Homo sapiens: one gene and its partner. The protein of the gene in region 1 interacts with the protein of each later gene in a pairwise test. Each region holds a gene or a part of one and is shown on either strand. Other genes may lie near its edges. The genes, in order: KIR3DL3 and TNMD.

Region 1 (3,830 bases):
AGGCAAACACATTTCTTGTCTTTAGAAGTTACCCAGGCTCAAGTGTTCCTTTAGAGCAACAAAAATGGACTAAGACAGCAACGTCCTGAGATCAGGAGGAACATCCCAGAACAGCCTGGGCTGTCTTCCTGTTCTTCCTGGAGGAGGACGTCATGCAGTGCTTTAGCTGAGTGCTTCCTGTGGCTCCAGGGTACAAAACCCAGGCTGGGCTGCTTTTTGATTTCCCCCAGATACACTGCATATGGGGTGACTCCACATGTCTCGAGCAGCTTTTCTGAGCCTTGAGGGACTGGCTCACATTGAAATGTAGGTTTCTGTTGTCACTCGCTGCTTATCTGTTAGTAATGAACCTGCCTGTGTAATGTGTTCTCTGTGTGTTCTGTCTCCCTGGAGTGACGGTGAGTGATAGGAATTGGTATAGGCCCAGGTGCATTCCAGGAGGTGTTTAGAATCTTCTCTGGGAAGACTGGATTGGGATTGATACACAGCGAATGTGCTTTACAGTTTCTACCACCACAACCCTCTTGACTCAAAAAAATTACATTCTCCAAGAAAAGAAAGAAAAAATGAAATCAAGATAAAAAAAGTGAAGTAGAACTGACTTAAATCAAACAGCCATGAAATAATGATGTAGCCCAGGAACAACATGCTACTTTTTGTGATCTGCTGAGACATATATTAGGCTGCTATTCCACCCGAGAAGCACGGGGAAGGACCGCCCTCTCCGTCGTTTATTGTTTCAATACAGCCTGTCCTTCTGTGAGTTAGTACGAAATGTGACCAGGGGCTAGTGCTGGCACTGGTCTCTGAGTCCAAGATCTGAGCTCACTCCAAAGAGTATTAGTGTTTACCTCCCCATGATCTATCTGTATCTCCATAGGTGATTGGAAGTAGAGATGAATTGGGGGATTTGGGTGAAGGGGCAAGTTTTATGCCATGAACAGAGCACGTTCTCTATTCCAGGACCTGTGCTGGTGGGTTCAGGAGGCTTTCACATTTTCCATATGATCCCAAGCTCACAGAAAGCCAAATAAGGAAGAGGTTTAACCTGATTGTTTAATGGATAAGATAAAGGGTCAAAGAATTAAACACAGAGAAATAGAAAAATGATGGTTGGTATCCAGTTGCCTTTGTAATTTCTGTGTGTCATAATTATGTATGTTTTATTTTTATTTTTTGAGACAGAGTCCCCCTGTGTCAGGCTGGAGTGCAGTGATGCGATCTCAGTTCAACCTCTGCCTCCAGGGTTGAAGCCATTCTTCTGCTTCAGCCTCCCCAGTCGCTGGGATTACAGGCAGGTGCCAATGCACCAGGCTAATTTTTGTATTTTTAGTACAGACGGGGTTTCACCATGTTGGCCAGGCTGGTCTCAAACTCCTACCCTTAAGTGATCTACCCGCCTTGGCCTCCCAAAGTGTTGGGTTACAGGTGTGAGCCCCCATCCACAGTCTTGTATATTATATTATACTAGGTCCCTTCATTTGCACCACCCCTCATGTGTCTATCGCTCCTCTGCCAGGTATTGATTTAGATGTAGAAAAAAAACACATCTCAGAAAGAAATTAATGAAACAAGGATTAAACTACTAGGAAAAATCAAACCCAGCAAGCCCTCCCTGCAAATGATTCTACCTCACAAGCATAGCTTATATCCATCTTTCATTCATTTAGTGTGTAAATCAACCCTACGTTTCACCAGTGGGGCGGGAATTGCCTTTTCCACGGTCTCCTAGATTCCAGTTACGCACCTGGGCCTCCCTTATTTTCATGTCGGTCACTGTTAATCAGGTAGGGATTCCTAGTTAGCTCTGAGTTGAATCCAAGGGCTGTGAGTATCAAAAACATGCTCCTTGTTCCTCCTTAGTTTCCTGTGTACCCAGTGTGCTCTCCATCTCTCTACAGTTGTCTTGTCATTCTCCCCATCTCATTCCCAGCATTTGAGGCAGAGCCTCTTCCTTGAACTAAGAATGTTTCCACCTTTGTGCCTTCACGGCTGAGAGCTCAGTGTGGAAAATCCTTCCGCCAATCTTCCAAGGGTTGAATCCATTTTTTCCATTAAGGTCACAAATATTATCTGATCAGTGAGACCTTCTCTGTCACCTGAAATTATATACTCAGCATTATCTATTACTTATTTTAAATCCTGGCTGGGCGCAGTAGCTCTCGCCTGTAATCTTTGCACTTAGGGACGCTAAGGCGGTGGGATCACTTGAGATTGGGAGTTTGAGACAGCCTGCACAACATGGTGAAACCTCATTTCTACTAAAAAAATATACCAAAAAAATTAGCCGAGTGTGGTGGCGCACAGCTGTAATCCCAGCTACTCGGTAGGCTGAGGCAGGAGAATTGCATGAACCCAGGAGGCAGAGGTTGCAATGAGCTGAGATTGTGCTACTGCACTCCAGCCTGTGGAACAGAGAGAGACTCTACTCAAAAAAAAAAAGAAAACAAAAAACACACACACACACAAAAAACCCCAGATTTGGTGCACAGATGCTTCCCAATGGATCATTCATTTATTGGTACCCTTGTGCATTCATTCTCTGCCCTCGCATTTACCCATCTGCAATATCAGCGTCCCAAGAGCAGAGGCCAAATGCATCCTGTTTACCATTTGTGGAAGGCAGGAGAATGCTGCCCCACCCCCAAAATGTCCCTGTCTTAGCCTCCATAGCTTGTGAATATGTTATTTTACAGGAAAGGAGGAATGAAGATTGCAGATGGCATTACGGTTGCTAATCAGCTGAACTTAAAAAGAGGGTACGCTGGATGATTTTAGGGAGATTGAGATGGATTATCTTGGTGACCCCAATAGAATCCCAAAGTCCTTAAAAGATGAGGAAGAAGGCAGAGCAGGATTCAGAGAAAAAGGTGTGGGTAAAGAAGAAGAGTCTGAATGATGCCATGTGAGACGTGACCAGCCTTTGTGGGCTTTGAGGAAGGAGGAAGGAGGAAGGGGACCAGGGGCCCAGGAACGTGGGAGCCTCTAGGAGCTGGGAAACGTTAAGGAGCAGATTCTTGCTTGGAACCTTAAAAAGAAATCCAGCCTTACTGTCCCTTTGATATCAGCCCAGTGAAATGCAGTTCATACTTCTGAGTTACAGCACTGTGAGATAATTAAGAAAAACATGTTTTCATCCACGAAGCTTGTGGAAATTTGTTATGGCAACAATAGGAAAAGATTCCACACTGCACAGCCTGAGCATGGGGCATTGGCTGAACGAGTGAGTGAGTGGAAGTGTCGTGTGCATAAATAAGCTAAATTCTCTCTTACTGCACGTCTCTTGCTCTGCTGAGTCAACCAGGGTTGCATCTGGTACACTGCTGATACGAATGTAAATTAGTACAGCCATTACAGAGGAGAAGAGTATGGAAGTTCCTCAAAAAATAAAATGAGGTCGGGCACAGTGGTTCATGCCTGTAATCCCAGCACATTGGGAGGCCGAGGTGGGTAGGTCACTTGAGGTCAGGAGTTGAAGAGCAGCCTGGCCAATATAGCGAAACTCTGTCTCTACTAAAAATATAAAAATTAGCCGAGTGTGGTGGTGGGAGCCAGTAACCCAGCTACTTGGGAGGCTGAGGCTGGGGAATCTCTTGAATCCTGGAGGTGGAGGTTGCAGTGAGCCCAGATGGCGCCACTGCACTCCAGCCTGGGCAACAAGAGTGAAACAGTCTAAAAAAAACAAAAACAAAAACAAAAACCATAAAACAAAATGTAAAAAGACACTTCCAGAGGATCTAGCAATTCCATGACTGGGTGTAAACCCAAAGGAAAGGACATCAGCGTATCGAAGTGACATCTGCACTCCCATGACTGTTCCAGCAGTGTTC
Region 2 (3,055 bases), on another chromosome or scaffold:
ACAATTGCCTTGGAAAGGTATCTAATCAAACACTGATATAAAGAGGAGCCAGATGTGAAGGCTATGGAATGTTGAATTTGTCCTAAGTTGAGTTCCTGTTTATAGGAGGAGAGCCTGAGACCCTTTTTGCTAGTTTAGCTTTCTCCTTTGCTGAGTCTGCACATTTGGAATATTTTAGTGTTGGCCTGCTATGACTCACTGCCTGTCCAGCAGCTTAATTGATACTTAAGGAAGTTCACAATATATCTTTCATATAATTAAACACTGGGGCTATGCACAAAAGGATATGTTTTTAATGCATCAGTTATGGAGACATTTTATCATCAGCTCCTTATTTCCACTGTCTTAATACAGCAGAGTAAAATATGATATTTAGGTATCATTATGCTTTGCCCTTTTCTACTTCCAAACCTGTTGTGTTGGATCCTCTCTGGAAAGGGAGTCTTATGACCTACAGTCAAACAAGGTAGGTCAGATAATTTCCTTATGGCCAGCTTTTACACAGAAAAGCAGAGGAAAAATCAGAGTGATATTTTTAGGTTTAAGGCTGGCTTTGGAAAAAAGGGGTTTTGATTTATATGACACGCCTTGAGGAAGAGGGATTCTAGCTTTTATGGCTAGCCTCGGGGGAGAATGGGACTGAGAGACTGGCAGGTAGGAGAAGGTCAGAGAAAAACTTTTGCTTCTGAGGCTTTCATTTTGGGGCATTGTTTTCTGAGCCTCAGCATAGTCATCTATGTTTGACGGGTCTGCTCCATTTCAGTTGCTGTGAATATTCTCAGCAAACACTTACCCAGTGTGTTCAGCAGCAATCAGGCTGTTGGTGATAATGTAGAAGTTTATTAGAACATGAAGAGAGGAATTACCTACAAGTAATTCTGGAGAGCTGGCTACCAGGGGCCAGATGCCTCATAGGCAGAAATTCATTGAATAGCATGCATTTATTATATGTTGCCAGCAGTTTAAGCATTTGAGCTCAAACCTCCTATTAGACCCTCCCCAGCATGCGGGCCACCCACCAGTTACAAGGCATGATGACACGACAGATGACTCGTCCTCCTTGGTAGCAGTATGGATATGGGTAGTAGCCTAGTAAAGGTTCACAGACGCGGCGGCAATAGCGGTTGCCTCGACGGCAGTAAATACAACAATAACCTCTCTCATCCAGCATGGGATCAAATTCTATTCCATTTTCAGTCTGAAAGAAGAAGAAGCCAGTGTTGGGGGTGGGAGAGGAAGGTTCACTAGCAAGAGTTCTCACCAAGCAGGGGAGAACTAGAAGACTGTATGAGTTGGGGGCTTGTGAGAAATTAAGCTCCTTAGCCTGATCATGGAGATATATCTACAGAGATCGAGATTGATTTTGAATGAGCCTCCTGGAGATTCCAAGTTTCTTAAACATTTTTTTTTTTTTGTTAAAGCCATGATCGTTCTCCTTCCAATGATTGTGATCTGAGGGGTAGTAAGTTTTGTGAGGGCTCTTTTTTCCTCCTCTATCAAGAGTTTACATAAACATAACTCACATAGTCATTTATTGGAAGTTCTTCCTCACTTGCTTGTCTGGCGTGACGGGTCTTCTCTACTTTCACTTGAGGGACCACCCACTGTTCATTTTGTTCAATCCCTTTTTTTTCGTTGGCAGGAAAGTGAAGATCTTCTCCCTCCTCCTCAAAGTCTTGTAACTCAGAAACTAAGATAATAAATGCAAAGTTGTGATGCAACTGCTTTGCAAATGTTCCTGAAAGAAGTGCTTGGGAGAATAGCAGCTGGGGATAGAGATTTTCATTGTGTCTTCTAACTGGCATCATTTAGGCATGGACCACTTTTCCAAGCTCCTTCAGCTGATATTTTAGAGTAGTTTCCAAAACAAGCCTGATCATTTCTACATACACAAACTTCTTTGCTTCTTTGGCATCAAACATTTACTGCTTTGACTTAATAGCACACTAAATTAAAAACTGAGGACAAGGGACTTCTGTATCTCCTACAATGATGATTTTACCCATGTAGATGCTCAATAAATATTTCTTGGTTGCCTGAATTGATTTGACATCCTCTGTCCTCCCACTTCCCTTATGTTTCTTGTCTTAAATTTTTTTTAAACTTTCTGTTTAGAAATAATCTTAGATTTATGGAAGAGTTGCAGAAATAGTACAGAGTTCACATATTCTTCACCCGGTTTCCCCTAATGTTACCTCACATAACCATGGTACAATGATCAAAAATCAGAAGTTAGAATTGGTACAATGTTATTAACTAAACTACAGACTTTATTCAGATTTCATTAGTATTTCTACTAATGTTTTTTTCTGTTCCAGCATCCAGTCCAGGATACCACACTGCATTTAGTCACCTTTTTAATATCTCTAAAGAGTACCCACAGATGCTTACATTGGTGAGAATAACCTCTCTTGGGTAATAGAGTAATCTATGCTGTGCAGAATGAGGGAGGCCAAATTCCATGTTAGCTAAACAGACTAAGACATCCAGGGGCCTTTACCTTCTCTATGGGCTGACTGGAAGTTGAGGGCTGGACTCTTCTACTCTGGACATCAAGCCCTCAACTATTTTTATAGTAATTCCTAAAACAGCAACAAAGAAATTTGTATTGCAGTGATTGTCCTATCTTCTAAGGAAAATGCCACCATTTGACATAGGGAATCCTTCTTGATAGCAGAGCATTGTTTTTGCCCTTCTCTCCTCTATTCTTGGGTTGGACCCACAGTGGTTTGAGCAATAGTCTGGCATACCGACTGCAATGAATATAGATGTGCAAAGAGAGACAGATTAGTTTTTTGCTATCACTAGTCACATTAGGGTGGTGTTACCTTTGCTGGGATATTTAAAAGCCTGTCAACATTAATTTATCTGATTTATAACTTGGCTGTGAAAAATTCCCTCCTCACTGGCAGTCAGCATATATAGACTCATCCAAGAAGATATAAACCGATCATTTGTTTTCCTAGAAATGTAGCCTCTAAATGCTGGGAACATTAACCTGTTACTGTCTTAGAAAATAGGAGGAGGATGAGGATAAGAATGTCATACCTGATAT

Evidence for each region.
Region 2: the proteins of KIR3DL3 (region 1) and TNMD interact in a two-hybrid assay, tested with the Homo sapiens proteins (one large-scale study listed by BioGRID).

Annotation. Positions count from the first base shown.
Region 1 is NC_000019.10:54,730,871-54,734,700, reverse strand, and holds part of KIR3DL3 (killer cell immunoglobulin-like receptor 3DL3 precursor), read right to left. Parts: intron 1-3,830.
Region 2 is NC_000023.11:100,597,651-100,600,705, reverse strand, and holds the end of TNMD (tenomodulin), read right to left. Parts: coding exon 3,049-3,055; intron 1,691-3,048; coding exon 1,524-1,690; intron 1,199-1,523; coding exon 989-1,198; 3' UTR 821-988; downstream 1-820. UniProt on the Homo sapiens protein: May be an angiogenesis inhibitor.